6 separate regions of the Homo sapiens genome follow, and all the other regions are linked to region 6. The links come from fine-mapping of genetic effects on gene expression. A gene starts in region 6. Each other region holds a variant in brackets. All regions are shown on one strand. Distances are from middle to middle. Region 1 overlaps ZFPM1 (zinc finger protein, FOG family member 1). Region 2 holds the start of MVD (mevalonate diphosphate decarboxylase). Region 3 holds the start of HSALR1 (HSP90AB1 associated lncRNA 1). Region 4 overlaps ZC3H18 (zinc finger CCCH-type containing 18). Region 5 overlaps PIEZO1 (piezo type mechanosensitive ion channel component 1 (Er blood group)). Region 6 holds the start of RNF166 (ring finger protein 166).

Evidence for each region. PIP is the estimated chance that this variant, and not a neighbour inherited with it, causes the effect.
Region 1: its variant is fine-mapped to the expression of RNF166 in whole blood (INTERVAL, PIP above 0.99).
Region 2: its variant is fine-mapped to the expression of RNF166 in whole blood (INTERVAL, PIP above 0.99).
Region 3: its variant is fine-mapped to the expression of RNF166 in subcutaneous fat (FUSION, PIP 0.95).
Region 4: its variant is fine-mapped to the expression of RNF166 in whole blood (INTERVAL, PIP 0.97).
Region 5: its variant is fine-mapped to the expression of RNF166 in whole blood (INTERVAL, PIP above 0.99).

What each region holds. Positions count from the first base shown.
Region 1 is chr16:88,534,893-88,539,994 of GRCh38, forward strand. ZFPM1 (zinc finger protein, FOG family member 1) reads left to right here. Exons shown (of 10, transcript NM_153813.3): 10 at 1-2,139. The coding sequence ends at 87. Among named protein-coding and RNA genes, the nearest start is that of ZFPM1-AS1, 6.4 kb to the left of the region's middle. RefSeq lists an enhancer at 4,802-5,102. The variant G/A (reference allele first, on the strand shown) is at 2,447.
Region 2 is chr16:88,662,579-88,667,680 of GRCh38, forward strand. It overlaps MVD (mevalonate diphosphate decarboxylase), which reads right to left and starts at 513. Exons shown (of 10, transcript NM_002461.3): 1 at 433-513. The coding sequence starts at 502. It overlaps SNAI3-AS1 (SNAI3 antisense RNA 1), which reads left to right and starts at 795. Exons shown (of 4, transcript NR_024399.1): 1 at 795-822. RefSeq lists silencers at 258-677, 1,018-1,177 and an enhancer at 758-807. The variant A/AAAAAAAG (reference allele first, on the strand shown) is at 2,013.
Region 3 is chr16:88,728,573-88,733,572 of GRCh38, forward strand. It overlaps PIEZO1 (piezo type mechanosensitive ion channel component 1 (Er blood group)), which reads right to left. Exons shown (of 51, transcript NM_001142864.4): 19 at 4,706-4,882; 20 at 4,035-4,160; 21 at 3,763-3,963; 22 at 3,134-3,338. It overlaps HSALR1 (HSP90AB1 associated lncRNA 1), which reads left to right and starts at 2,608. Exons shown (of 3, transcript NR_103774.1): 1 at 2,608-2,876. The variant G/A (reference allele first, on the strand shown) is at 2,588.
Region 4 is chr16:88,608,487-88,613,588 of GRCh38, forward strand. ZC3H18 (zinc finger CCCH-type containing 18) reads left to right here. Exons shown (of 18, transcript NM_144604.4): 7 at 448-565; 8 at 2,782-3,050. Among named protein-coding and RNA genes, the nearest start is that of IL17C, 28 kb to the right of the region's middle. RefSeq lists an enhancer at 1,659-2,604. The variant CGAGCGG/C (reference allele first, on the strand shown) is at 2,826.
Region 5 is chr16:88,743,412-88,748,411 of GRCh38, forward strand. All of the region lies in intron 2 of PIEZO1 (piezo type mechanosensitive ion channel component 1 (Er blood group)), which reads right to left. PIEZO1-AS1 (PIEZO1 antisense RNA 1) reads left to right here. Exons shown (of 3, transcript NR_120387.1): 1 at 1-79; 2 at 181-933; 3 at 1,678-2,337. Among named protein-coding and RNA genes, the nearest start is that of PIEZO1-AS1, 3.1 kb to the left of the region's middle. RefSeq lists an enhancer at 453-1,139 and a silencer at 2,157-2,216. The variant C/A (reference allele first, on the strand shown) is at 1,925.
Region 6 is chr16:88,704,122-88,709,223 of GRCh38, forward strand. It overlaps RNF166 (ring finger protein 166), which reads right to left and starts at 2,287. Exons shown (of 6, transcript NM_178841.4): 1 at 2,050-2,287. The coding sequence starts at 2,204. CTU2 (cytosolic thiouridylase subunit 2) reads left to right here and starts at 2,382. Exons shown (of 15, transcript NM_001012759.3): 1 at 2,382-2,477; 2 at 3,015-3,089. The coding sequence starts at 2,410. RefSeq lists an enhancer at 1,762-2,399 and silencers at 2,021-2,300, 2,341-2,650.

The DNA of each region.
Region 1 (5,102 bases), 170 kb before region 6:
TGCAACATCAAGTTCAGCAGCCTGTCCACCTTCATCGCCCACAAGAAGTATTACTGCTCCTCGCACGCCGCCGAGCACGTGAAGTGAGCGCCCACACTACAGCCGCAGACGCTTTGCACGCCCCGCTGCGATGCGGGGAGGGGGCCGCCCCCAGGCCGCACGGACTGCCGCTCCTGGGAACCCCGCCACGCACAGGCCTCGGCGGAGGGGGCCGCAGGGGGCAGCGCCCGCCTGGACCCTTGGCACTTAATAAAGAAGTTCAGTTTGATGAGCATGGTGGTGGGCCAGCCTAGTTCTCTGAGCCAGCAGGCACACGCAGCCAGTGTCACATCCAGCCCTGCTGTGTACACAGGCCACTGCGGCCCGGAGTGGCTGGGCCCCTGCCGGAGTTACACCACTGGGTGCTAAGAGCTAGACCGAGCGTCAGGTCGGAGGCCACAGCACACACTGAACCACTGCAGGGCCAGCCGCTCTGGGCCTACCCCACCCCAGCCCTGTCCATACCCCCCTAGGGAGAGCAGCCTCCACACTGCTGACCCTCTCCACGGTCTACTTGGCCGCCAGACACGGAAGAGAGGGGCACTGACCTGGCTGGCCATCCCCCAACCCTGCATGGTCCTGGGGGTCCGATGTCCCCCATCCAGTCACAGACCACCAGGGATGGCAGGGGTGGGGGCGCCCTGGGGAGGATGAAGCCCTGTGGTGGCCAAGGCTGGGGGAAGAACAGGCGAGTAGGTGGACAGGAGAGGGAGACCGAGGCCGAAGCATTCCCTGGCCTCGAGGGGGTCCTGATGCTCACTGGTGGGTGCATCTCTCCCTCAGAGCCAGGGCTGAGGACAACCGTGTGGTGGAGTCACCTGTGGTGGCTGAGTCGGTGCAAGGGTCAGGGCACCCCCACCCCCCGTCTTCCCTGCCCTGCTGGGCTGTATGGGCCGGCCACACTGAGGGAGTACTTGGCTGACCGCGTTCAGCCACGGTGTCACCGTGCCGTTTGCAGCTGGGTGGCTGTGGGCAGCCTCCAGCGTGCTTTCTCACTGGAGAACAAAAACACTCTTCTATTCCCAACGTCACTTTATTTTTTTATTTTTGGGTCTCACTCTCTTGCCCAGGCTGGAGTCCCTGGGATACTCACGGCTCATTGCAGCCTTGACCTCGTGAGCTCAAGTGATCTTCCCACCTCAGTTTCCTCAGTAGCTGGGGCTACAGGTGTACACCACCATGCCCAGCTAGTTTTTGTGTTTTTTGTAGAAATGGTGTCTCCCTATGTTGCCCAGGCTGGGCAACCCTATATTTTTTAGAGCTAAGGTCTTGTTCGGTTCCCCAGGCTGAAGTTCAGTGGCACGATCATAAGTCACTGCAGCCTCAAACTCCTGAGCTGAAACCATCTTCCTGCCTCAGCCTCCCAAGTAGCTGGGACTACAGGCTTGACCCACCACACCTGGCTAACTTTTAAAACATTTTTATAGAGACAGGGTCTTCCTGTGTTGCCCAAGATGGTCTCAAACTCCTGACCTCCAGTGCTCCTGCAGCCTCAGCCTCCCAGAACATTAGGATGACAGGCGCGAGCTACCATTCCCAGCCCATTTCCAACTCTACTTGAACTAGCTGCATTTTTTTCAGCTTTGCCCAGCAGCCCTGGTGAGTGCAGGCAAAGAAGGCAGCGGCCTCTTGCCTCAGAAGCCCGAGGCACTTCCCAGCCAGTCCAGGGCTCGCTCTCCTGCCCGCAGCTCGTGGGCCTGGGTCTGCAGCGCTTTCAGTGGTCTCTGATGTCTTTGTCCACCTGCCCACTAGGGTCTGGCCAGATGGGGCCCGTAGCCAAGGCCAATGGACAGACATGGCTTCCACCCCCTCCCAGGGACCTGAGCTCCAGGGAAGGCAAGCAGCCTTTTCCTCACAGACACCCCTTCTGTTGAAGACCAGGTGATAGCGGGGACGGGAGGCACGGACCCCTCAAGTCTGCTCATCATTTGCATTGTTGTGCATGAATTTGCGTGGAGGGTTCAGGAGGCTCTGCCCCCAAGTCCTCCCCAGGTGCGGGCGCAGGGTACAAGATGTTCTAAAAAATAGAAACCTGGTGGGGGGTTGTCACTGTGTGTACATTTAAAAGTAAACTGTTTAAAGGTGTCTAGAAACTACGAATACAGTCTCTGGTGAGTGACAGGTGCTCAAAGGGGGTAAAAAACACAACTCCAGTGTCCTCACCCCCTTTGAGCCCCACCCCAAACCTGACCAAGCGAGGCCCTGGAATGCAAGACGCAGAGGAGAATCTGGAAGACAGCCCAGCAGTGCCGCACAAACCCGCCATGCACCCAGACGTGCCTCAGTGTCCACACCTGTGCCGCAGGAGTGGGAGTTCGGGCCTGGCAACCCTTCCTGGGGGCTCATCTCAGAGGCAGCAAGGACCCTGTGACCGGGACCCAGACCTGAAGTCACCCCAGAGGGCCCC[G/A]CCACGGCCCGGACTCGAAGCTTAGGGCAGCACACTGAGCCTCACGAAGGGCCCTGCGCCTGTCCTGGCTTGCATAACCCCCTACTGTCCCCACCATGCAGGGCTGGGTACCGCTGCCATCGCCCGTCCCAGGTCATTGGCGTGTGGCCAGAGCCCGTCCCCATCGCACCCAGGACTCGCCTCGGGCACGCGTCTTCTGCACAGACCCTGGGGCCCCCACACCTGGCAGACGCCATCAGTCACCCCTACTCCCTCAAGCCATCACCCCAGTCTCCCCCCACCAGACCACCGCCTGGGCCTCCACCCTGTGCCTCCCCTGTAGCCGCTGACTCGGTGGTGGCCCAGGCCTTCTCCCGCCTCTCCCCAGGAAGCTGCCTGCCCTGCTCACAGACACCCCCTCGGCCCCCCAGCTGGTTCTCTGCTGAGCCAGGTTCAAGGCTCTGAGTCTGCCCTGGTCTCCCCTTGAAGTTCTCCCTCCACACTCCTGGGGTGGGCTCATGGTCTTCTCTCCACTAATTCTGTAGTCTAGCCACGCCTCCCCTGAGCCCCAGACCTGCAGACCTACAGCCCCTGTGTCCTTCCAGGCCCTTGATGTACCATGAGTGACTGTAACCCCACGCACCTGTAACTTCTGCCCACACCTGTGCAGGTGTTCCCCTCCCCCAAGCCCACCTGTCTCCCCACACCAGTGCAAGCACCCCCCTGGCTCACTGTCTCCTCCCCTCACCTGCACAGGCATCACCCCGAGCCCACCTGTCTCCCCACCAGCCCACCTGTCTCCTCCCCTCACCTGCATAGGCATCCTCAGTGGCCCCCTGCCCCTCAAGCTGGAGAGCATCAGCCTTGCCTATTCACCCTTCATTGTCAAAGCAATGCTTGATTTGTCCAAATCCCACCGCTTCCCAAACCCATCCACCATCGCCGACTCCCAGACCTGGGACTTCACCCTTGAGTCTCTCTGAACAGCCGCTTCCAAATCTCGAGGGTCCACTCCTCACACAGCTGCCACCGCTCCCCTCTCCCAGGCTCACCCTGCTCTGAGGCCCGTCCCCGCCCCCAGGTGCCTGTGCTTCGCGTAAAACCCCTTCTGTTACTGGCCCCATCCTTCAGAGGTCAGAAGTCCCCCTTCTCTGCCTCAGCACAGAGGAGAGGAGCCTCCCGTTGGCGGCCTGTCCCGACGGCAGCCCCTGGCCCTGCTAAGCCCACCACCCGCTGGGCTCCATGCTGCAGCTGGTTGCTCCAGGCAGTGCCTCCTGATGCCCTCTCTACTCCTCCGAGGCTGTCCTTGTCATCCAGCTCTCAGCTTAGGTGCCCCCTCAGACCTGTCCCTGGCTCACTTCCCGCGTAGGAACGGTCACTCTGCACCTCTGTCCCCAGCTCGCTCCCGTGTAGGAATGGTCACTCTGCACCTCTGTCCCCAGCTCACTCCCACGTAGGAACGGTCACTCTGCATCTCTGTCCTCTTGCCCGTCGCCTACTGGCCTGTCTCCTTTGAAAGCTGGGGCTGCGCCTGCTTGACCTCTGCCTCCCAGGCACCCACAAGTGGCCGACACAGAGGAGGGGTCTGCATCTGTTGAAGTCACAGGGGTGTGTGTGGACCACAGCCAGCCCCTCCCCATGCCCAGCAGTCAGTCCAACTGTCACAGCCCACTTTCCAGCCACACTGTCCACTCATGGCACACGGCCACCGTCACAGCCCACTCTCCAATCACACTGTCCACTGAGTCCCATGTGTGACCTGAGCTTCTTGGATCTCGGACCGCTGCATTCCAAGCTGCTCTCTCCCCACTCCTCCCCCCTCCCCACTCCCCCCAGCTTTGCCTGTGAAACTCCTTCTCTCCTCAAGACTGGCTTAAAAGGTCCCCCTCAGGGCCACCCAGCCAGGCTGTACCCGTCCCCTGCCCTGCACAGGATGGGCCTCCCGCCTCCACCCTCCTTCTTCCAGGAGGGCACCTGCTCCCTTCTACCTGAGCTGCATACAGCTCAAAGCCCCTTGCAGGCTGGCAACTCCCAGGCAGGGTCAGCCCAGCCTGCCGGGAGTCCCTCACGCTACTTGGGACACAACGTCCACGAGATGATGCAGGGCAGCCTCGCCCTCCTGAGGCCCCTTCCTCTGCCAGGCACAGGGTCTGTCCTCTCAGCCACACCATGGGCTGAGTGCCCTGACTGTGCACGAGGGCCCCAAGGTTCCATCGGGACACACCTCCTGCCCAGGCACCTGGCGGGCACAGCTGGGCCAGGACACATCCCTCTGCTGGCTTCCAGCACTCGGTTCTCGACCACCAGCCGTACTGCTGGGCACTGGCTCCCAGCCACGCCCTGGCTTACAGAAAGCTCAGGCCTAGCAGAAGCCCACCCCAGCCTGCCTGAGGAAGGGTGGGAGTGGAGAGGGCCCCCACTGCCGGCCCTGTCTCCCACACCAGGACACCAACATGCAGAGCAGGACATCACCTGTGGCTGGGGGGCTGCGTGAGCTGGCAACCGTCGGATGGGTCTGCTCTGAAAACCGGTCCCCACCTGTCCCCCGCAAGCCGACCCCTCGGGAGAGCCCAGCTTTGGAGTCTCAGGCAGAGCCTCAGGACGCCAGGAGGCAGCAAAGCCGTTGCACTCTGGCCTGCCCTGTATCTGCCGGGGCCTTGCAGAGGGGGAGGGAGGA
Region 2 (5,102 bases), 42 kb before region 6:
GTCTCGGGCTGGGGGAGCAGTGGCGCGATTTCCGCTCACTGCAGCCTCGACCTCCCGGGCTCTGGCCATCCTCCCGCCTCAGCCTCCCGAGTAGCTGGAGCCACAAACGCGCACCACCACGGCGGATTCTTACGATTCATGGGAATCGATGATTGATGATTTCGATAGTTCGGTAATCGCTAATGGGCAGGCGCCGGGCGACCCTGCAGGGGCGGCAGCCGTCGCGGGGGAACGGGTGGCGCCGAGCTTGTCACGCGAAGGAGCGCGCGGCCCCGCCCGACCACCGCCGCGCCCCTCCCTGAGCCTCAGTTTCCCCGTCTGTCGAGGCCCTGGGAGGGCAGGACGGAGCGCGCCGCCGAATCAGCGCGCGACCCCCGCGTACCCGGCCTCGCTCCCGGCCATCCCCGTCCCAGGCCGGCCCGCGGCACTCACAGTACTTGATGACCGCGATGTTGACCGGCGCTGTACAAGTGACTGCCGCCAGCGGCTTCTCCGAGGCCATGGTCCCACCGCGCAGTGACCCCAGCTCCACAGCCACTTACGGCCCGCGATCCCACCCCAGAGGCCTCTGCCTCCTCACGCGCTACCACAGGATTGGCCCGTGCGAGCCCGGCTGCTCGCGCGCCGACCAATCAGCGGCGAGTCGGGCGCACGCATTACCTCTCAGCCAATGGACGGGATCGGACGATGGGTTGCTGACGTAGGTCCGCCCCACCCGCAGGGTGCGCTCGCCAGGCCTGGGGCGTGGTGTTGTCTGCGCAGGCGCCGTGTGCCCAGGCGCCTGGCGTCCGCGTCGGCGATCCGGGGTCTGGGCGCGGCGAGGTGGGCGCTGTTGCCTGTGGGGGCTACCTGTCTGCTGGTGCTGTGCGGGCTTGTGCGGGGCTGTGCGGCAGCTGTGTGGGGCCCGTGAGGAGCTGTGCGGGGGGCTGTGCGAAGGGCTGTGTGAGGCGCTGTGCTGGGGGCTGTGCGGAGACCTTGAGGCGCTGTGCGGGGTCCGTGAGGCTCTGTGTGGGGCGCCGTGTGGGAGACTCTGCGGGGGCCGTAAAGGGTCCGTGAGGCGCTGTGTGCGGGTTGTGAGGCGCTGTGCGGGGACCATGAAGGGGCCGTGGGGCGCTGTGCGGGTGCCGTGGGGCGCTGTGTGGGAGGGAGGCTGTGCGGGGCCGTGGGACGGTGTGCGGGGCTGAGGGGAGGGCGGGTCGCGCTGTGCCCTCCTTGAAGCTCTTGGACGGCCCCGCTGGGTATGGGGGTGCACACAGGCCCGAGGGCAGGCGCTGGAGGATGTATCCCGGGATCCACTCTTAACCCGGCAGCCGAAGGCACCCTGTCCCGCCGCCCACAGCCTTCTCCGCGCCATGTCCTGGGCCAGGATCCCCCGCCACGGGGCTCACACGAAAGACCCCGGGGCGGGGAAGCCCCGCAGCCCGGAGCTGGGTCCAACCTGCATTAAGGTGGGCGTCTCAAATACCCCCTGTAAGGCCCTGTAGGAGCAAAGCCTTGGACTGGGTTGCGGCGCTTGTGTGTGCATTGACTTCTCCTGTGAAACGTACAGGAACATTTAAGCGTGCCGTTCCCTGCCATTCATTCCAATCATGTGCCACGCCCCCACTATTTCTAGAGTTTTCTCACCCCAAACAGAAACTCTGTCCCCTTAAAACAATGACTTCCCATTTTCCCCTTCCCCTTTTAAAATTTTACCTTTAGTTTTTAAATAGCTCAGATTGGCTGGGCATGGTGGCTCACACCTGTAATCCCAGCACTTTGGGAGGCCGAGGTGGGCGGATCACGAGGTCAGGAGTTTGAGACCAGCCTGGCCAACATGGTGAAACCCTGTCTCTACTAAAAATACAATAATTAGGTGGGCGTGTGGTGCACGCCTGTAATCCCAGCTACTGGGGAGGCTGAGGCAGGACAATTGCTTGAACTCAGGAGGCGGAAGTTGCAGTGAGCCGAGATGGTGCTGCTGTACTCCAGCCAGGGTGACAGAGCAAGACTCCATCTCAAAAAAAAAAAAA[A/AAAAAAAG]AAAAAAAAAAAACTCAGATTTCGGAAAATAGGGGAGTATGCAGTGTGAAGTGTCCACTCTGCCTAGCCACCTACTTCTATTACCAGAACCATCATACTTATAAATTCTTTATTTTTTTCCAGAAATAGAAAAAAAGTCTGTTTTTTTTCTCACTCTGTTGCTCAGGCTGGAGGGCAGTGGTACGATCAAAGCTCCATGCAGCCTCGACCTCCTGGCTCAAGGGATCTTCCCACCTCAGTTTCCTCAGTAGTTGGGACTACAGGTACACACCACCATGCCCGGCTAATTTTTTTCTTAATTTTTTTGTAGAGATGTGGGGGGGTCTTGCTATGTTGCCCAGGCTGATTTGAAGTCCTGGCCTCAGGGAACCCTCCCATCTCAGTCTTCCAAAGTACTGGGATTAGGTGTGAGCCACTCCACCTGGCCTGTCAATTCTTTGTGTATTTTTTCATTGACGTGCATAGTACAAGCACATAGCGTGTTCTCCCACCTTGCTTTTTCTACGTACCTTCTTCTTAGAGATCATCCCAATTTAGTAAAAAGCTTCCTTGTTTGTTGTCTAAATATACCTGGTCTGTCCTAGTTGGGTTGTTACTATAAACAGTGCTTTCCTACGTTGTTTGTGCACATGTATTTCTGCAGGAGAAATTCCTGGAAGTGGAATTGCTGGGCCAAGTGGGATGTGCCTGAGTACTTTTGATAGCTGTTGGCAAGTCGCCCTTTGTGGAAGTCAATTGATTACTCAGGTCTCTCTGCGGAAGTCTGAGAGTGCCTGCATGCCTTCACCAGCACAGTGGGTCACCTGCCAGAGTGACATGTGTTGTCTCACTGTTTTCAATTTGCATTTCAGATGGTGGTTATTTTTAATTTCTCTTGCAATCACAGCTGCTTTTCCATTTTATGCAAAGCCACTAAATCCTATTGAAGAGCTGATGTGGACTGTCTCGGCCTATAGTCAGGGTGTATTCCCTCAGCTACTCAGAGAGAGTGGGGCTTCCAGTCACCTCCTTCCTTCTGCCACGGCTGTGATGAAAAAGAAGACACAGGCTTGGTGCTTTGGGAGGCCAAGGAGGGCAGATTGTTTAAGTCCAGTAGAAAAAAAAACAATTTATTTTTGTTTAGAGACAGGGTCTCACTCTGTTGTCCAGGCTGGAGTGCGATGGCACCATCAGCTCACAGCAGCCTCAACCTCCTGGGCTCAGGTGATCCTCCCACTTCAGCCTCCCAAGTAGCTGTGATAAGTGCCACCACTCCTGACTAATTTTTATTTTTTATTTTGTAGAGATGGAGGTCTTACTGTGTTGCCCAGGCTGCTCTTTTTTTTTTTTTTAGACAGAGTCTCGCTGTGTCACCCAGGCTGGAGTGCAGGGGGGCAATCATAGCTCACTGCAACTTCTGCCTCCTGGTTTCAAGTGATTCTCATGCCTCAGCCTCCCAAGTAGCTGGGATTACAAGCGTGCACCAGCAGGCCCGGCAAATTTTTGTATTTTTAGTAGAGACGGGGTTTCGCCATGTTTGGCCAGGCTGGTCTCAGACTCCTTGCCTCAAGTGATACGCCTGCCTCGGCCTCCCAAAGCACTGGGATTACAGGCGTGAGCCACCATGCCTGGCGTTTTTATTATTATTATTTTTTTTTTTTTTTTTGAGACAGAGTCTCGGTCTGTCACCCAGGCTGGAGTGCAGTGGCGTGATCTCGGCTCACTGCAACCTCCGCCTCCCACGTTCACGCCATTCTCCTGCCTCAGCCTCCCAAGTAGCTGGGACTACAGGCGCCCACCACCACGACCGGCTACTTTTTTTTGTTATTTTTAGTAGAGACGGGGTTTCACTGTGTTAGCCAGGATGGTCTCGATCTCCTGACCTTGTGATCCGCCCGCCTCAGCCTCCCAAAGTGCTGCGATTGCAGGCGTGAGCCACTGTGCCTGGCCCTATTTTTTTAAGTTTTAGATAACCTCTATTGATTATGACTCAATAGAAATAAGGAATTCTCTTCCATCTCCCAGTCACATACCTTCTTATCCTATCCCTCCATCAGCATTCCTTATTTTCATTATTACAATTATCTAAGTTATACTCACAGTTGAGCCATGTAGCAATGGGTGCCGACAGTGTGCTTGTGGGCAGACTCCCTTATTGAGTGGAGAACTAGGATAAACTACCTCCCTGAAAGATGTCACACATCGATCCCCACCCTGACGCCTGTAGCCCAGCTCTCCTGAACCTCAGCCTGTATGTGTGTCGAAAATAGGCCAAGCATGGTGGTCCATGCCTGTAAGCCCAGCAGCACTTTGGGATTTGGGAGGACTGCTTGAGGCCTGGAGTTCAAGACCAGTCTGGGCAACATAGCGAGACTCCACCATATCCACAAAAAAAAAATTTTTTTTTTTTTTTTTTTTAAGACACAGTCTTGTTCCATTGCCCAGGCTGGAGTGCAGTGGTGCAATCTCGGCTCACTGCAACCTCCGCCTCCCAGGCTCACTGCAACGTCCGCCTCCCAGGCTCACTGCAACCTCCGCCTCCCAGGCTCAAGTGATTCTCCTGCCTCAGCCTCCCAAGTAGTTGGGACTCCAGGTGTGTACCACCACACCCAGCTAATTTTTTTGTATTTTTAGTAGAGACGGGGTTTCACCATGTTAGCCAGGATGGTCATGGTCTCGATCTCCTGACCTCGTGATCCACCCGCCTAGGCCTCCCAAAGTGCTGGGATTACAGACATGAGCCACCGCATCCAGCCTACAAAAAAATTTTTTCAAAATTAGCTGGCCGTAGTGGTGCACACCTGTACTCCCAGCTACTAGAGAGGCTAAAGCAGGATGATCGCTTGAGCCCAGGAGTTCAAAGCTTCAGTGAGCTCTGATCACACCACCGCACCTGAGCCACAGGCATGGGTGCTTTGCTGAGTATGGTATGGGTAGGCTGTGTGTGGCACTGATTCATGAGGGGAGAGGGTCTGGGAGATGAATGGGAAGCCAGACAGCTGGAGCCCGTGGGTGGGCCCTGACTGGTGTTGGGGCAAGGAGGGGAAGCCCAGCCAGGGCTGAGCATGTCCTGCCTGGTTCCAGGCCTGCAGCCCTGGGGGTTTGGCCTGG
Region 3 (5,000 bases), 24 kb after region 6:
TGTTGGGGAACCCAGGACATGCTGATCTCACAGCCCCATCTGCCACAGAGGGAACCTCGCGACACAAAAACAAAGTGACCCTCGATGCTGGGGAACCCAGGACATTCTGAACTCACAGCCCCATCTGCCACAGAGGGAACCTCGCGACACAAAAACAAAGTGACCCTCCATGCTGGGGAACCCAGGACATGCTGAACTCACAGCCCCATCTGCCACAGAGGGAACCTCGCGACACAAAAACAAAGTGACCCTCCATGCTGGGGAACCCAGGACATGCTGAACTCACAGCCCCATCTGCCACAGAGGGAACCTTGCGACACAAAAACAAAGTGACCCTCCATGCTGGGGAACCCAGGACATGCTGAACTCACAGCCCCATCTGCCACAGAGGGAACCTCGCGACCCAAAAACAAAGTGACCCTCGATGTTGGGGAACCCAGGACATGCTGAACCCACAGCCCCATCTGCCACAGAGGGAACCTCGTGACCCAAAAACAAAGTGACCCTCGATGCTGGGGAACCCAGGACATGCTGAACCCACAGCCCCATCTGCCACAGAGGGAACCTCGCGACCCAAAAACAAAGTGACCCTCGATGCTGGGGAACCCAGGACATTCTGAACCCACAGCCCCATCTGCCACAGAGGGAACCTCGCGACCCAAAAACAAAGTGACCCTCGATGCTGGGGAACCCAGGACATGCTGAACCCACAGCCCCATCTGCCACAGAGGGAACCTCGCGACCCAAAAACAAAGTGACCCTCGATGCTGGGGAACCCAGGACATGCTGAACCCACAGCCCCATCTGCCACAGAGGGAACCTCGCGACCCAAAAACAAAGTGACCCTCGATGTTGGGGAACCCAGGACATGCTGATCTCACAGCCCCATCTGCCACAGAGGGAACCTCGCGACACAAAAACAAAGTGACCCTCGATGCTGGGGAACCCAGGACATGCTGAACCCACAGCCCCATCTGCCACAGAGGGAACCTCGTGACCCAAAAACAAAGTGACCCTCGATGCTGGGGAACCCAGGACATTCTGAACCCACAGCCCCCATCTGCCACAGAGGGAACCTCGCGACCCAAAAACAAAGTGACCCTCGATGCTGGGGAACCCAGGACATGCTGAACCCACAGCCCCATCTGCCACAGAGGGAACCTCGCGACACAAAAACAAAGTGACCCTCGATGCTGGGGAACCCAGGACATGCTGAACCCACAGCCCCATCTGCCACAGAGGGAACCTCGCGACCCAAAAACAAAGTGACCCTCGATGCTGGGGAACCCAGGACATGCTGAACCCACAGCCCCATCTGCCACAGAGGGAACCTCACGATACAAAAACAAAGTTACCCTCGATGTTGGGGAACCCAGGACATGCTGATCTCACAGGATGGCGACTGCATGGCGCAGCCGCGTGGAAGGAGGCAGAAGAAGGGGAGCTGGCCTAGGTGACGCTTGATAGCAGGTATTTCAACAAGGAAGAGGTGGACAGGAGACGGGGAGCTGGCCTCGGTGATGCTCGAAAGCAGATGTTTCAACAAGGAAGAGCTGGAGGGCCCAGAGGCTGAGGCAGCCCTGTAGCAACAGGCACACCCAGCGCCCAGACCCCGGGCTCTAAACCTCACGCTCCTAGAACTCGATTGGGCTCCCTGGAGCAATGGCTGTGAGCACAAGGCTGGGCCTGGGTAGCAGAAGATGAGGCAGCAGCGCCTGGGAGCAGAAAACAAGACGGGGCCGGGCGTGGCAGCTCACGCCTGTAATCCCAGGAGGGAGGCCTGTAATTTGGGAGGCGGGTGGATCACCTGAGGTCAGGAGTTCAAGACCAGCCTGGCCAAGATGGTGAAACCCCGTCTCTACTAAAAATACAAAAATTAGCCGGGCCTGGTGGTGCTTGCCTGTAATCCTAGCCACGAGGGAGGCTGAGACAGGAGAATTGCTTGAACCCGGGAGGCGGAGGCTGCAGTGAGCCGAGATTGTGCCAGTGTACTCCAGCCTGGGTGACAGAGCAAGACTCCATCTCAAAAAAAAAAAAAAAAAAAAAAAGGGTTCTTGCTATGTTGACCAGAGTGGTTTCAAACTCCTGGCCTCAAGGGATGCTCCTGCCTCAGCCTCCCAAAGTGCTGGCATCACAGGCGTGAACCACCATGCCCAGCCAAATACGGGGAGATGATGTAACAGTGTGTGGCCGGAGGGGCCAGGACCCACTCAGCAGAGGGGAGGCCCAGGGTCTGCGGATGACAGAATTCTTGGAAAGCAGCCAGTAACAAATGGCAGCTGTCCTTGATGGGAATCCCAGCTGACAGACACACAGAGACAGCAGAGAGAAAGTCTGTTTCGTAAAACCACAAGGCTGACCCCACACAGCCCACCAGTGCCAACAGGCTGGGTGCCACTGTGGGGCAGGTGGGACGCCCCTGAGCCGGCCACGTGCACAAATGTGACTCCCCATCTCAGACCGCAGGGTGCTGTGTGCCTTGAGCAGACCTGCAGCACCAGGACAGCCACGCAAATCCAGTCTCACGGCGTCAGCAACGCTACCGGCCTCCCTCCGGAACTTCCCAAGAGACAGGAGAGGCGGGGGC[G/A]GCTTAGACCCAAGACAAGAGACTAGAGCAAACATCAGACCAGATCCCGTCTGAAAACCAAATGGCCACAAAGAAGGGTGCTGAGGCCGGGGCTGTTTGAATGCAGAGGACACGTTTGACGATGGCACTGCCAGGAGACGGGACCACGGGTGTGGGGCTGTGGGCTCAGACACCCTCACCCAGGAGACGCATGCTCGAGGCAGCACTTGGGTGTGAGGCATCACGGCCGACCCGCACGGGGCCCGGAGAGGACGCAGTGCTCCTTGTGTGACTCACAACTTTCCTGAAGGTTTGAAATATTTCAAGATAGAATACTGGGCAAAAAAGGAAAAGAGAACAGCAGAGCCTGGAGGGGGCCAGGCCGCCCCCGAGAGACAGGATGCAGGTGATGGCGCCTGGGTAGGATGTGGAGCAGAGAGGAGGGACTGGAGGAGGCCAAGGCTAAGTCTAGGAGGGTGGACAGGAGTCTGGGGCAGGCGGGAAACACCCCCACGGGCATCCACAAAGCCACAAAGCCCACTCCCACCCAAGCCACGTGCCCCTCACCAATGCACAGGGCCGGGGGCATCCCCAGGCACAGCAGGTACTGGTACAGCAGGAACAGCGCCAGGAAGAGGCAGTAGTTGGGCCAGAGGCGGGCAATGGCCTGGCGGTGCCTGCGGGTGAGGATGGCCACCAGCCAGCAACCGTGCAGGGTCACCAGAAAGTTCATGCGCTGCCCGATCACGTTCACGGCCATCAGGAAGCAGATCTGGGGAGGGGAGAGGGCGGGGTGTGGGGATGCACTGAGTCTGGGGGGAGGGACTTTCTTGTCCCACCCAGCAGGCCTCAGGCTTGCAGCAGCCCTGCCTGGAGGCTGCGGGCATCAAGCAAGGACAGGGCCAGCGGCGCTGTCAAGAGGGCAGGAGTGGCTGGCAGTTGCCATCGTGCAGGGGAAACTGAGGCTCCAGGAGGTGGGCTGTACAGTAGAGCAGATCTAACTTGGCCCCCTGCCTGTTGTCAGCACCGACACACCACAGGAGTCCAGGGAAGCCGTGCCTGGCCCTGAGTCCCCCACCCTCTGTGGCCCAGGCAAACCCAGGTGGGGCCAGGCTTGCGGTGCCTGCACGGTGCAGCCGTCCCTCCCTCCCGAAGGCCAAGCCCTGCCCCAGGGGGAGGCAATGTCCTTGCCTCACCTCCAGCCCGAATTTGTAGAAGAAGAAGTTGATGAAGTACTTGAGGCAGCCGAGCAGATCCTGGTCCAGCTGCTGGCGGGTGCCGCTGGCAAACACGGCCTGGGCAGGCAGCGGGGCCAGCTGGTGCTGCCGGCGGTAGTGCTCCTGGCGCCGGTACACGATGGCCTCGAATACCAGCAGCAGCAGCACTTGCAGGTGGTTCTGCGGAGGGCAAGGGTCAGGGGGCAGCCGGGTACTCGCCCGCCCAGCCGCCCACCAGCCCTTCAACTCACCTGGATGTAGCCCAGGTTGGGGAACCCTTTCCGCACCCCAAACCAGTTGGCAGGGTCCACGGGCCCCCGGTACAGCAGGGACTGGCTGATCTCCGTGGGCAGCAAGTTGGTGCTGTTGGGGAAGGGCTGGCAAGAGGCCAGGCATCAGTGCCCCCTCCCAGGCCACAGTGCCCCCTGGCCCTGCCCGGAGCCCACCACAGCCACAGCTCTGGGGCAGGTCCACTGCTCCCCAGCCAGGGACACGGGGGCTGCCAGCCTTGGAGCCACCTTCACGGGGAAGGGGACCAGGTGTTTGAGAAACAGGGAGACCACGGGCAGGGGCTGGGGGAGTGAAGAGAGGTCCAGGGAGAAGGAGGGATGTGCGAGAAGGTCCCAGGCAGAGATGCCTGACTGTCTCTCCCTGTCCAGGGGTGGGGCCCTCCCGTCCTCACTGCCGGAGACCCTGGGACTCCGCCCCTACTGGACACCCTTGTGTGCAGGGAGTGCGCCCCTGGTCCACAGTTGAGGTCGAAGGATGCTGCCTCCAGGAAGCCCCCTTGGCGCCCCCAGGGGAGAGTCCTCCATCTCCATTGCTGGCCCCACTGCACTGAGGCAGCTGCCCCAGGAGGGTCGGGCTGCGAATACAGAGTTGCCTGGAGCTTCCTCCCGTCCCAGCCCTCGGGGGCCGGTACCTCGGTGCAGTTGCTGGAATACTCCTGGGGGTTGACAACCTTGAGCTGGTACAGCATCTTACACACGATGATGACGCAGGTCCACACGGTGGACAGGCAGGAGGCCATGGGCCGGAAGCGTGGGTAGGGCAGGGCGAAGGCCCACAGCACCACCAGCAGCAGGTTCATCACCGACACCTGAGGGCAGTGGGCACGTGGGGCTGGGCTTGGGGAGGGCAGTGGGCACGTGGGGCTGGGCTTGGGGAGGCCAGCTGGGCAGGCCAGAGCGACCCCACCCCAGATGGGAAGCTGAGTT
Region 4 (5,102 bases), 96 kb before region 6:
CTGAGTAGCTGGGATTACAGGCATGTGCCACCACGCCCAACTAATTTTGTATTTTTAGTAGAGAAGGGGTTTCTCCATGTTGGTCAGGCTGCTCTCAAACTCCTGACCTCAGGTGATCCACCTGCCTCGGCCTCCCACGGTGCTGGGATTACAGGCATGAGCCACCACACCTGGCCCTCACTTCCTATTTTCTTGAGTATTTTTTATCAAAAAGGCTATTGAATTTTTGTTAGACATTTTTATCATCTGTGAATAGAACCCTTTGACTTCTGGCCTGCTCTTAGATGTAGTTTGTGAACAGATTTCCTAACCTTGAGCCAACCTTGCGCTCCTGGAGTAAACCCCACTGCGTCACGGTCTGTTACTTTCTGTCCCTAATGTTTCGTGTGGTCTTTTTACGCCAGTGCTCCTAAGTGATGAGAGTTCTTTTTCATTGGCCCTTTTCAGACTCGAGCCTTACGCAGACCCTTATTATGACTATGAAATTGAGCGGTTTTGGCGTGGCGGACAGTATGAGAATTTCAGGGTGCAGTATACAGAAACAGAGCCGTATCATAATTACCGAGTAAGTATGACTTCAATATCCACATATGAACTTCATGATCTGTTCATTCAAGTTATCCCTTTTTATTTACAGTAAAAAATACAGGGCTTTATATGAGCTTATAGAGCCAGCACAATGTACCAATTTGAAAACCAAATTGATTGTTACGGAGAACGAATTCAGAGGCAGCGATTACATTAATGGTCATTTGAACAAAGACTTGCCTGAAAACTGGTTCTTGCTATGGTTTTGTTTTTTTGTGTGGTGTTTGTTTGTTTGTTTTTTGAGATAGGGTCCCACTCTGTCACCCAGGCTGGAGTGCAGCGGTGCAATCTCGGCTCACTGCAACCTCTACCTCCTGGGTTCAAATGATTCTCCATCCTCAGCCTCCCGAGTAGCTGGGACCACACGCATGCACCACCATGCCCAGCTAATTTTTTTGTATTTTTTTTGTAGAGACGGGGTTTTACCATGTTGTCCAGGCTGGTTTTGAACTCCTGAGCTCAAGCAATCCGCCTGCTTTAGCCTCCCAGAGTGCTGGGATTAAAGACATGAGCCACTGCGCCCGGCCTGGGTTGTTTGTTTTGGAGACGGAGTTTAACTCTGTCACCCAGGCTGGAGTTCAGTGGCGTGATCTCACCTCACTGCAACCTCTGCCTCCCAGATTCAAGCAATTCTCCTGCCTCAGCCTCCTGAGTAGCTGGGATTACAGGTGCCCACCATCACACCTGGCTAATTTTTTGTATTTTTAGTAGAGACAGGGTTTTGCCGTGTTGGTCAGGCTGGTCTCAAACTTCCGATCTCAGGTGATCTGCCTATCTCAGCCTCCCAAAGTGCTGGGATTACAGGCATAAGTCACTGTGCCCAGCTCGGCCTGGTTTTGAAAATGAGATTTGCCAGTATACTTACTGATGCCTGTGTCCAGGGGTGCCTGCGTCTCCCTGCTCGGGCGTGTCACTCTTCCCCACCCCTCAGTGATCCCGTTTAGGATGTGGCGCCTGTTCTGGTCCACTTCAGCCAGCTTGTTAAGTCTGTTCCGGGCCTGCTGCACCTCACTGCTCTCATGGAAGACTGGTCTATACTGAGATTTCCGCCCTGGAAATCTCCCTGGTCTGAGCCTCAGAGTTTAGCATATTGATGAGTTATGTGCTTCAGACTGTGAGTTCCTCATCTTAGCTGTTAGGGTGATTTGACGAAGTTGCCCCAGGGAAGGGTCAGTTAGAAGCTGCTGTGTAGTTCTGTTCTGTGACTGCAGGGACAGTCATGAGCTTTGAGGACCAGGTGCGGCTGTCTCCTCAGGAGCCCATCAGGGTGAGCTTGCAGAGGGAAGAGGGCCCCATCGTGCCAGAAAAGTCCCCCTGCTCGATGCTCTTGTGCCCCGTCTCTCCATAAAGCAGCTTCCTCATTGCAGGTGGGCTGCAGGGTCCTGCTGCTTACCCCTGGGCAGGGTACCCTGGAAGGTGGGAGAAAGCCCCAGGGATCCCTTTCCACTGCGTTCCTCTCTGCTGTGTCCGAGGGAGGGGCAGCAGGGAGGCTCGGGGTGCACCCTGCATCTCCCCAACAGAGGCCTCAAGCCTGAAACCCATCAGGTGCGTTGTGATTGGACTTTATTCAGTTTTAACCTTGAATATTAGAGCAAATGAATGAGTAAGAGCAGAGGAAAAGTTGGAAAGGGCATCCGAGGATTGTACTAGAAGAAGAGGAGCAGTCTTTTGGGTGCCTGCTCTGCTCCAGAGGCAGGGCATGTGCTCTGCTGTGGCTGCACCTACCTGGGACAAGCCTGGAACTCCCGTCTCTGGATGGACAAATGGACTTGCCCAGGCCACACGGCGGAAGGCCATCTGTGCCAACGACACCGGGCTGTGACTGCAGAATTGCTGCCCTGAGTTAGTCTAGAATTGGTGGTTGGGATGATTTCACTCCTAGTTTGTGTTTGCTCTAATTTGGCATCTGACCCGGTTTTTAACATTGTGTTTTAAGGAGAGAGCTGGGAATGAGATGAGATCCCCACTTGAGGGTGCTCCCTGATCCTGCCTCTCTCTTGCCATCTCCTCTGTACTCCACCGCAGAGAGTTCAATCATAGTCGGGAGCACTTGGCGTTTTGTGTGTAGGTTTGTGGGGTACAGGTGTGATTCTGTGACACAGACAGATCGCGTGGTGTTGGAGCCAAGGCTTTCAGTGCCTCTGTCACCCAAATAACGCACGGTGTCCCCATGTGTTTGGCTTTTTAACAAAGGAAAGGGAGCGGGAGCGAGAGAGAGAGAACAGACAGCGCGAGCG[CGAGCGG/C]GAGCGGGAGCGGGACCGAGAGCGGGAGCGCCGGCAGAGGGAGCGCGAGCGAGAGCGGGAGCGCGAGCGCGACAAGGAGCGGCAGCGGAGGAAGGAGGAGTGGGAGCGTGAGCGAGCCAAGCGGGACGAGAAGGACCGGCAGCACCGTGACCGCGACCGGGAGAAGGAGCGGGAGAAGGAGAAGGGGAAGCCCAAGCCCCGCTCCCCGCAGCCGCCAAGGTAGACCCTGCTTCCTGAAGCCCAGGGGTGTGGGGGAGGTCCGGCATGCAGCTCTGTACCTAGTCCCCCTGGCCTGCGCTTCCCCTCTGTGGCCCACAGCTCTGGAGCCCAGGGGACCAGTGCAGGCCCACAGCCCGAGCCCATAGTTCCAAACCCAGAGCTCTCCAACGCAGGGCCTTTCTGTAAAACTCCCAAGGCCGTGACATCTGCCCTGAGCTCCTGGGAGGCTGTTCTCATTCTAGAGGATCTCACTGATGTGAAAATGCTTACAGTCCACGTGCAAACATCGGTGTGTTTTAATAGGCGCTGCCCTTGTATACCACGCACGGTGTGTAACTCACACCCTGGGCACCATGTTACTGTTCTCAGGAGAGTTCTGAATTCCAAAGCATGCCTGGCCCCCAGAGCTTGGGACTGGGCTCAGGTGCTGTGGGGCATCCGTGTTGCTGGCCAGGGTGAGGCACTCTAGCAGCCAGCATGCAGGGGAGGGCCGGGCGGGCTGCTGTTTTTCCTTTGCGGAGTGGGTGCCTTGGGTGCAGAATGATCCTTGCTGCCAACTGCTGGGGGCACAGTCAAGACCCATGAGACAGGCAGGCGCTGGGGCTCAGGACAGCCCTTTTTTTCTCTCAAATATACTTGACTGTTAGAGCAGAATGGATGGGCGTCAGTGGACATTAGAGTACTGGATGATGTTTTTGGTGGGTGTTTTTTACAACTTTATTGAAATATAATTAATGGACGCTGCAACATACCCATTTAAAGTGTACAATCAGTGGTTTCTAGAATATTCACAGAGTTGTGCAGCCATCATCGCAATCAACATGAGAGCACTTTTGCCCCCTAAAGTGAAACCTTGCGGTGGCTCACACTTGCACCCTGCACTTTGGGAGGCTGAGGCAGGTGGATTGCTTGAAGCCAGGAGTTTGAGACCAGCCTGGGTAGCAAAGCAAGACTCCATCTCTATTTAAAAAAAAAAAAAAAAAATTAAAAATTAGCTGGGGGAGGTGGCATGAGCCTGTGGTCCCAGCTACTCGGGAGGCCAAGGCAGGAGGATTACAGGATCGCCCAGGTGTTGGAGGCTGCCATGAGCTACAATCGCACGGCTGCACTCCAGCCTGGATGACAAAGTGAGACCCTGTATCTAAAAAAAAAAAAAAATTAAAAATTGTTTTAAAAAAATCTAGGCTGGGCACGGTGGCTCACTCTTGTAATCTCAGCACTTTGGGCGGCCGGGATGGACAGATTGCTTGAGCTCAGGAATTGAGATCAGCCTGGGCAACATGGCAAAATCCCGTCTCTACAAAAAAATACAAAATATTAGCAGGGCGTGGTAGTGCACCACTGTGGTCCCAGCTACTCGGGAGGCTAATACGGGAGGATCACTTAAGCCCAGAAGGTTGAGGTTGCAGTGAGCTGAGATTGCACCACTGCACTCTAGCCTGGGTAATAGAGCAAGATTCTGTCTCAAAATAAAAAGAAGAAACATTGTACCCATCAGCAGTCACTCTCCATTTTCCCCACACTTCCCAGTCTCTTAGCAGCTTTGTGTCTCTAGGTATCTGCCCATTCAGAACGTTTTGTAGAAACGGAAGTGTGCAATACACAGCGTTTTGTAACTGGCCTCTTCTACTCCGAGCGTTTTTAACATTTGTCCACGTTGTAGCGTGGGTCAGTGCTTTATTCCTCCATGGATGCACCGCATTGCATTTCTCTGTTCGTCTGTTGATGGACGTTGGGTTGTTTCCAGCTTTTGGCTGTTGTGGTTGTGAATTTGTGTGCAAGTTTTTGTGTGGACATAGGTTTCCATTTTTCTTGAGCATATACCTCAGTGTGGAATTGCTAGATCACATGGTCACTCTATGTTTAGCTGTTTGAGAAACCCTCAAACTGTTGTGCAGAGCAGCTGCACCTTTTACATTCCCGCTAGCCGCATAGGAGGGCGCCATCTCTCTGCATCCTTGTCTGCACTTGCTGCGGTCCGTCTTGTTGATGACAGCCGTCTTGGTGGGTGTGACGTCTCCCTGCCGTTGCGATTTGTATTTCTCTGATGAT
Region 5 (5,000 bases), 39 kb after region 6:
CACCACCAGCCACGCCCGGCCACGAGAAAGTGCAGAACAGCTCAGGCCCTTCTCACAACTTCCTGGAGCTCAGGGACAGGTAGCATCTGGGTCTGGGTCCAAGGTGGTGAATGTCACCACCACATCTGCCCTCTCTCGGCCTCGGGGCGCAAACTCAGGGCCTGTGTCCACTCTGTTCAGTTTTTTGAGCACAAATGGTGTTAGGTGACAGACTCGGGATTGGCCTTGGACACTCAGCCCCCTCTTTCTGGAGCAAAGACTCATGACCCACGTCCAAGTCACCCTGCACATCCCTAAGCCTGACCGTGAAGCAGCCCTCACGGATGCCCAGGACTCCCTGTCCGCACCACCAGGCAGCCGAGGCAGGTTTGGACCAGCTTCTCACACTCACACCTTCCTAGGGTTGCCCCAGGCCCTGACCTGCTGACCCTGCAGCTATGACCTCTGACCTGTGGAGGATGGGAGGGGTGAGCAGCAGGGAGAGTGGGAAGGAGGAATGGAAAACCGTCCAGGAAGGGAGGCTGCAGCCCCGACACGAACAGGAGCCACCACCAGGGGGTGCTGTGCAGGGCTCCCGGAGGACAGGACCTTCCAGGGCCTCCCTGCCCCGAACCCATAGGTGCCAGGCTTCTCACTGCTCACGACCTCCGTGCCGGGCTCATACCTGCCGCGCCAGCCCCTCTTCAGCAGAGCACAAGTCTGGCAGCAGGAGGGCACCAGCCAGGGGCCCCGCGCCCCCGCCTCTGTACAGCAGGGTCACCGTGGGGTGACATGAGAACACCGACCCAGGGAATGGGCTCCTGCCACACCTGCCTGGGAACCTGGGCTGTGAGTCCTGCTCGCTGCACCCTCTAGCCTGACGTTGAAGTAACCTCGCCAGCGGGGCCCTCTGTGGCACTGGGCACTCAGGGAGAGCACGTGGCATTGGAGAAGGTATTCTGAGTCCTACAGAGAGGGACCTGCGGGGCCTGCCCCACAGGCACGTGGGGCTCCTGCTGGGGCTGTCAAGGACCCCCGGGCACTGAGAGGACATCTGGGCCCTTGGGCAGCCAGGCTGACGGGTTCCCTGCACACACGATCCAGCAGCCCGGGAAGGAACTGCCTGACCAGAGACCCCTGGGCAGGGAGGGGCTCTCAGGCCACCTGGCTCCCGCCCACCCGCCTTGCCCTGCACGACAGTCCAGGATGTCCGTCTCTGGCTACATCTCGGATGTCACTGCTTCCCCATTGTCTTCCTCCCTCCCCTTTCCCTGCCTCCTTCCCGGTTCAGTTCTCGGGCCGGCCAGAGTGTCCTGGTCTGGCCATGTTAGAACAGCTGGGCCATGATCCCTCCGCAGGGTCGAAGGGGCCGCAGCTGGGCCTGGAGGCCACTCCTGGCCACGTGGCACGCCCGCTCCCTGCCTGGGCTGGATCAGACTAGGGAGCTGAGAGTCCGAGGGGCACCCCGGGAAGAGACGCTGCTGGAGATGGGAGGGGGCCGGAACGTGCAGAGGGATCGAGGCTCTGCTGACCTGCACGGGGCGGGGAGCGGGGAGGTGCACACAGAGGCCGAGGGGGCACCCTGACACCGGCCCTCTTCTCCGACGCAAACAGCATGACCTCAAGGGGTCGGGTGGCTTTCTCGTGCCTCCACCTGCAGCCCCTGTCCCCGCCCACCCCGTCACTCTCCCCCTGCAGGTCCCACCCCCAAATGCAAAGCTGGGAAAACCAGGCTGAGCCGGGGATCAGGCCACCTCCGCAGGGACCCACTGCTGCCTCTTCCAGGAGCCCAGGAGACCCAGTGGGTCTCCTGCCCCCGACTCCAACTCCCTCCTGGCAGGACACACCCAGCTCACAGTGGCCTTTCCATCCTGGGAAAGGGAGTGAGAGGAGGCTCAGGCCAGGGACCCGCCCAGCTCTGGCCGGCAACCGCCCTTCAGCCTTT[C/A]CTGAACCACTGTGTGGGCCCCAACCCATCCGCTGCCTGCCGGAGGGAGCCCATGGGGAATGGACTATTCTTGCCACCCCTATCCATGGCAGGGGAGGGGCTCAGCATGGCTCTTGCCCACCCAGAAGAAGGTGCAGGGGGCCTGGCGTGGTGGTTCACACCTTTGGGAGGCCGAGGTGGGTGGATCACCTCAGGTCAGGAGTTTGAGACCAGCCTGGCCAACATGGTGAAACCCTGTTTCTACTGAAAATACAAAAATTAGCCAGGCGTGGTGATGGGCACCTGTAATCTCAGCTACTCAGGAGGCTGAGGCAGGAGAATCACTTTCACTTAAACCCAGGAGGCGGAGGTTGCAGTGAGTTGAGATCGCGCCACTGCACTCCAGCCTGGGCAACAGAACAAGACTCCGTCTCAAAAAAAAAAAAAAAAAAAGGGGCCGGGGCTCCCCCTCCAGCTTGCAGGGCTCTCAGGAGGAAACAGGAAGGGGCGGGGAGGCCCCAGGGTATTGCAGACCGGATGGTTGACAGAGCATGGACCTCCCCCAGAGCCGGAGCCCTTGGACCCCGGCACGGCCTGCAAAGGCTGAGGGGCCCCACCACGGCAGCATCCTGATGCGTGGTCCATAGCCACCATCCCCACACCTGCCGGACAAGGGCTGGGCCTGATTGTTCTGTGGGGAGTGTGGAGTTGCCCTGAGTCTGATCCGTGGGGTGTGCATGGGAGCCCCCTGGAACCTGATCCATGGGGTGTGCATGGGACCAGCCAAGGGACCCAGGGTGCCTTGAGGCTGAGCCATGAGGCCCACCCAGCGACAGCTAGGGCTGAGCTGCGGGGTAGGGCCACGAGAGGGGCCTTTTGAGACAGAGGATGGAGACTACACAAGGCTGGCAGAGCCGGGGGACCAGTGAAGCTGGAGAGGGTGGCAGGGCCTCCCTGCACGGGGCATGGTAAGAGGTGGGGGGTGATCTCTCTCCAGACAGCAGGGTCAGTCTTGGAGGTGGGTTTTATCCTAAGGCAGGATGGGGCTTCTGAGTCCCTAAATGACAAGCAGGTCTCTGGGAGCCACCCCCTGTGGCTCTGCCTGCAGCCCTGCCTGGAGCACCAGGGTCTGTTCCCTCTGCCCCAGCCCCAGCCCCTACCCCTCTCCTCCCTGTTCAGTCTGAGCTCAACCTCCAGCCCCCCAAGGATCAGGCTGACGCCTACAAGGGGACCAAGGCTCAGATGGCGTCAGAGCTTCCACCAGGGCCACGCCAAGCCCAGCAGCTGCACAAATCATAAAGCCCCGGGCACTCGGCTCGGGCAAGCCTCACACTTTCCTCTCTCCCTCCCGGAAAACTGGGCAGCATCTCCGTCTCTGAAGGGCCTCTGACGAGGCTCAGGCAGGGAAGTCCTCCCGGGTCCTCTCCAAATCTTCCCACCCCAGCTCCTCCCCTGGCCTGGCTGGGCGCCTGCCTTCCCCCACTGCTGATTAAAGGAAAGTGTTTCCAATTGCGCCCTGGGCATGAAATATTTACGGAACAAACGGCGAAACGCCAGGGGCCTGGGAACAGACAGAACCGGCTCCACAGAGCAAAGGGGAGGCCCAGGATAGGGACCGGGAGTGGGGGTGCCCACCCACCCCAGCCATGCATCCTGGAGGGGTTTGGGCCTCGGGCCCCAGCGACTCCCAGCACTCGGCCGCACTGGGCCCCTCCCAAAATGCCTCTCTGCACCCCTGAATTCTACCCATGATCCAAGATCAGTGCCTGCGCTGGGCACAGTGACTCACACCTGTAATCTCAGCACTTTGGTAGGCTAAGGCAGGAGGATCGCTTGAGCCCAGGAGGTGGAGGCTGCAGTGAGCCATGATCATGCCACTGCTCTCCAGCCTGGGCAACCAAGCAAGACCCCCACTCGAAAAAAAAAAAAAAAGCCAAGCACGGTAGCTCATGCCTGTAGTCTCGGCCGAGGTGGGCAGATCACCTGAGGTCAGGAGTTCAAGACCAGCCTGGCCAACATGGTAAAACCCCTGTCTCTACAAAAACACAAAAATTAGCCAGGCATGATGGTGGGCGCCTGTAATCCCAGCTACTCGGGAGGCCGAGGCGGGAGAATCGCTTGAACCCGCGAGGCGGAGGTTGCAGTGAGCCCAGATCGTGCCATTGCACTCCAGCCTGGGTGACAGAGTGAGACTCCATCTCAAAAAAAATAAATAAAAAAGACCATTGCCCACCCCACAGCACCACGAGCTAGGAGGAGCCTCTGGGATGCTTCCAGCCAGATGTCGCGAGGCCGGAGAGCGACCTTCCACCTGCAGCTGGCAGAACGATGGACCCCAATGATGCCTGCACCCCAGTCCCCAGAATCTGTGAACGCAGAAGCTCACATGCAGAGGCGAGTCCAGGCAGCAGAGGAAATGGGGGCTGCCCAACAGCTGACCTTAAACCAGGGAAGTCGGCCTGGATTAGCCGGGGAGGCAGATGGGACGAAGCCACAGGGTTACCGCAGGGGAGAGGGAGCAGGAGAGACAGGGTGTGATCCTGACCCCACCCCACCGGCTCTGGAGATGGAGGGAGGGGCCCCAAGCCCAGGAAGGTAGGCACCTGGAGCAGCTGGAAGAGGAAGCAGATCCTCCCCAGAGTCCCCTGGAAAAACGCAGCCCGGTGGACACCTCGTAGCCATGGACAGGCCCCGACGCTGCCAGCCTGATGCGTCCAGCACCTCCCAGAAGGGCGGCACCCAAGAGCCTGTCTCCACAGTCACGCCCCCTGGTCCTGCTTGGCCTCCTCTCTGCCCTCTGCTGGGGAAGGTCTCTTGCTGCCTACACTTGCCCTCCCTGGGGACCTTCCTTCCTTTCAGTGGCTCTTCACCCTCCAAACCCAAAGACCAGCGGAGGGCCCGGCCCCACCCACGTTTGGCCCATGGCCTTTGGGGACAGGTCTCTGAGTGTTTGCTCCAAAACGCGCTCTCCTAAAACGTGGGCACAAAATGGACATGGCCCCCACAGGGCAGGTAGGTGACATGTCACAGGATGGAGGGTTTGCTGCTACCCTCGTCACCCAGGCTGCAGGCTTGGCACGTGGCCTCACCGCCCTCT
Region 6 (5,102 bases):
GAGGAAGTTGCTCTGGTTGGGGAGCTTGCGGAGGGGACAGAACCAGACCAGCAACAAACTTCCGAAGGGAACCTGAAGAGCCTTTAAACTTTCTGTGGTCATTTGCATGCATGCCTTAGCAACACCAACAAGAAACAAAGTTAGAAGCAGAGAGAGAACAGCCAGAAAACAAAAGCCAGCAGGAAAAGTCGGGGAGAAAAATCTTTGAAAGGCAAAGGCTGTGTGAAAAGCTCTTGCAGGACCCGCGGTGAGACTAGGATGGTCGTCATTCTACCAAGAAAAGCATGGCAGAGGGGAGTTTTATAGGAAAGATGCTCCACAATTCCATGTGGTTCTGCATTCTGTGTTATGGAAACTACATTTTAGGAAAAGACATATTTGAAAAAGAAGGGCAAAGACCAATTTGTGCAGGTTAGGAAAGTGGAGATGCTGTGGCCGACCACACGGTGAAGGTGTTGGCACCCAAAGCCTACGGGAGGCTTTTCTAAAACAAGGCCTAAGTCAAGCCTCACAGCGCTCAGTAACAGATGAGAAGGTGCGGAACACACCTTCAAACACCCGCTACCTGCTCACAAGAAGGAAGTCCTGCCAGGCGCGGTGGCTCACGCCTGTCATCCCAGCACTTTGGGAGGCTGAGACGGGCAGGTCACCGGAGGTCAGGAGTTCGAGACCAGCCTGGCCAACATGGTGAAACCCCTTGTCTACTAAAAATACAGCAATTAGCCGGGCGTGGTGGCGGGTGCCTGTAATCCCAGCTACTCTGGAGGCTGAGGCAGGAGGATCACTTGAACCCAGGAGATGGAGGTTGCGGTGAGCCGAGATGGCGCCACTGCACTCCAGGCTGGGTGACAAGAGCAAGACTCTGTCTCAAAAAAAAATATTCCCGTTCAGAGGCTGCCCCCCCAAAATGTCACGGCTAAGTGAGATGGAGGAGCAGGGGCAGAGCCTGTAGCAGCCTCACAAGAGAAGTAGGTAGAGCTGTCCCAGCGTGGGCAGGCGCCTGTGCTGCCTGACACAGGTAATGAAGGCAGCTCTGCATCCTGACACTGGCCCTGCCACCTCCGTGGGTGACCAGCACACATCCACCTAGCAGTCCCAGCTCCCTCTGTACCAGGAGCCCCTGAAGTCAGCTGACTTTGCTTGCAAAATGTTCTAGAGCCTCCTACCAGTCTGGGTGCACCCCCCTCCACTCCACCACCTCAGCAGCTTGGATGTCTGCGGGGAAGCCCTCCTGCTCTCTCTCTCCCCTGCCACTGCTGATTTTGCTCAAGAGCTGTATTATTCAGCACTTAGGAGGGAGCAGACACTGATCTAGGCTTCCTCCCAACGGGGCTGGCAGCTCCAGAATACTTGAGCACAGCTCCCCGCCAGGAGAGCCACGTCCTCCAGTTTCTGTTCCTGAAACACCCTGGAGGAGCCGGCTGTGAGCCCTGGTGCAGCTGGAAACCCCAGCAAGGTGGTCAGTGTCTGCTCCTCTGTGGACCAGCCTGCCTGGCTACTCAGTGATCGGTGTGACTCAAGTTCTCCTTCAAACAAAACTAAGAACATCAGACTCCAAACAAGCCCCTCTAAACTTTAGGGAACTCCTTTCCTCTGTAGTCAAAACAGGCAGACAGCGGGTCCGAACAAGAGTTGATAGCAAAAACTACAAGTTATTTATTTACAACTGCCCATTCCAGCCGCACAAGCCCAAATCCACCACCACTGGCGGAGCGGTGGCACCTGCTGCCCTCTGAGTACCGGAGCGCCCGCCGCAGCCGCCGGGGACCCCGAGCTTGGGCAGGGCCGCAGGTCGCCCGGTGAACCGAAGCAGCAGTCGGACCGGGCGCCTGCGGCTGGCGCGAAGGAGGCTGGGCGGGGGATGAACGCGCCCAGAGGGCAGAGGCGGCGCGGCACAGGGAAACCCGGACCCCACGCGCCCCGAGGCCCCGGCGCCCCGAGTCCCCGCGCGCCCAGTCCGGAGCTGCACCGGGGCGGCCGCCGGCCTCGCGACCCCTCCCGCGGCGGGGCACGGCCCCCTCCCCGCGGCCCCTGGGCGGGCGCGCTCACGTGTGGCCGCAGCTGCCGATGGCCACGGGCCGGTGATAGACCTCCAGGCAGATGGGGCAGGTGTACTGCGCCTCCAGGCCGCTGTCGCCGCCCGCCGGCCCGGCCGGCGGCTGCCGCTGCTGAGCCGAGGCCACCAGGCTGCGGAACATAGCCATCCCGGGGCCAGGCCCGCGCCGCCCGCCGCCCGCTGTCCTGGCCCGGGCCGGCCCGCTAGTCACAGCCGCTACTGCGCCGCGCTGACGTCATCGTAGGGCGCCGCCCCCAGCCGGGCTTCGCGGCCGTCACGGCGCCACTCCGACGTCATCGGGGCGCGCCCTCGCGCTGTCGCCGCCACAGTCTGCGACGGGACCCGGCGTGCCCATGTGTCAGGTGGGCGAGGACTACGGGGAGCCGGCGCCTGAGGAGCCGCCCCCGGCGCCGCGGCCCAGGTAAGAGCTGGCGGCCGGACCCGCCAGGCCGCCCCTCGCCTTCCCGCCGCACTCCTGCCCCGAAGGGTCCCGGCCGGGCTTGCTCCGGGAAGCCCCGCGTGGAGAGCGGGACCTCGCTCCCTAGCACTCGGGGAATGCCTGTCAAGCGGTGACGGCCACCTAGAAGGGGACTTACTCCACTGGCTCGCGCCTCTCATCCTAGCAGCCACTGGGGACGGCTCTGCCGCTGACAGTGCTGTCCTTATTCGGAGAGAACTGGTGCCGTGAAGCTGTCTCGCCTCCCCGTGTCAGCCTTGGGAGACTGAAAAGCGGCCTTTATGTGCCCCCTGAGCCGGCTTTTCTAGGCTAAACATCCCCCCAGAGCCTTTGTTTTTCTTGAAGTTTGGACAGAACACAAGCCTGGGTTTGTGTGTGTACCGAGGTGCCTTTCTCTGACCCAACTCAGGGTGAGAAACAGGAGCTGTCTCCCCAAAGCCCACTAGGCGTGGGGAAGATGTGATCTGTGTTTCTCTCTTCTCCCCCCTCCCATCTCCAAAGCCGTGAGCAGAAGTGTGTGAAGTGCAAGGAAGCGCAGCCCGTTGTGGTGATACGAGCCGGAGATGCCTTCTGCAGGTGAGGCCTGGAGGTGGCTGAGACCCTGGCAAACATGGCCTCGCTAGCAGACAGGATAGCCGCAACTTGTGATGCTTTGTTAATTCTTTTTAAAAACATGTACTTACTTTATTCCTGCTCCTGATGGGGTCCCTCGTGCCCCTGGTGTTGAAGTGGAGGCGAAAGCATTGGTTTCCTGCTTGGGAAAGTTTCCCATGAGCTAGCCACAGATCCCCTGATGAGGTTTCTGATGGAACTTATGGGGACAGTTGGAAGTGGGGCCGTGGTGTCTAGACTGGGATAAGCTGTAGGAGGACCAGGCGTTTGGGGGCAGCTGGAATACATCTAGGGGCGGATCAGAGCATCTTGGGAACTTGGCAGATGGTCTGGGTGAAAGTTTTTAATCTCGTGTGAGATGCTTGTTTCATCTGTGGCAGGATAGAGGCTTGGAAGACCTCTAGCTTTCCCCCAGGCGCTTGTCATGTCTTTCTTGGCTTGTAGCCATTGTATTGTTCAGTTGTTTCCACTAGACTCATAGCTCCCTGAAGGGAGGACCAGGTCTCTCTCCTTTTAGCCCTCTTAATTCCCAGTGGTGGTGCGTGGTTTTTTTGTTGTTGTTGTTGTTTTTTTTGAGATGGAGTCTCCCTCTGTCACCCAGGCTGGAGTGCAACAGCTGGAGTGCATGATCCCAGCTCACTGCAACCTTTACCTCCTGGGTTCAAGTGATTCTCCTGCCTCAGCCTCCTGAGTAGCTGGGATTACAGGTGCCTGCCATCATGCCCGGCCAATTGTTTTTGTATTTTTAGTAGAGACAGGGTTTCACCATGTTGGCCAGGCTGGTTTCGAACTCCTGACCTCAAGTGATCCACCTGCCTCGGCCTCCCAAAGTGCTGGGATTACAGGCATGAGCCACCACACCTGGCCAAGATAGGTACTTCTTTAACCACCCAGGAGCATCTGAAATTGCCAAGAACACCAGGCTGCCGGCAGAATTCACTGAGGAGAGGCTGCTGTGGCTGTATGCTAGGCCCTTGTGGCCAGAAGGGCTTTTGCTGTGCTTGCTGGTCCCAAGGAACAGTGGGGAGCCGGCTCTCTAGGGGAAGGCCTTAGGAATCTACATCGAGCTGGGATCCCCAGGGATCATTCAGGTCAGCACGTGGGAGAAACCTTGGCCTTCCCTGACCCACAGGGGACAGCGTGGTTTCAGGAGCCCAGACGCAGCATGTACACGTGGACCCACCACGCTTGAATCCCAGCTGGTGGTGTAGGGCGCAGAGGCTCTCCTGGTCCACAGTGCGGAGGTGAAGCCCAGCACCTGTGTCTCCTTGTATGAGACTCCCCACGCCCAAAGCTGGGTCCTGGGGGTCACTTCCCATGTCCCAGCCTTGATACTTGCCAGTTACCTGCAGTCCCTCACCTGGCATCTTGCTGTTAAACACAGACTTGCTTTACTGTCTGTAAAGGAACCACAGGGGGGTCATTCGGCCTCTTGTACGTGGTATCCATTCAACGTAGGGAGGGACTGCTGTGCACATCAAGTGTGTCTGACAGGAAGGAAGAGACTTAGAGCCCCAGGTGCAGGGTGACTCTTGCAGTGGCATTGTCCGCTCTGTACCGGGTGCTGCTCTTCACCCTGCCTGCCAGGATTGCAGGAGAGCTTTAAAATGCAGACTCCTAGGCCTCACCCCTAGACAATTTGACTTAATTGGTTTGTGCAATTCTAACATACAGCCAGGGCCAAGAACCCCTGACGTAGTGAGCCAGAGTCAGATGGCTGGAAAGTTTATTATGAACAAAGATTACAGCTGGGCGCAGTGGCTCATACCTGGAATCTCAGCACTCTGGGAGGCCCAGGCAGGAGGGTCACTTAAGGCCAGGAGTTTGAGACCAGTCTGGGCAACAAAGTGAGACCTTGTCTCTACAAAAAATACAACAATTAGCTAGGCATGGTGGCATATATCTGTAACCTGTAGTCCTATCTACCTGGGTGGCTGAGGCAGAAGGATCACATGAATCGAGGAGTTTGAGGCTGCA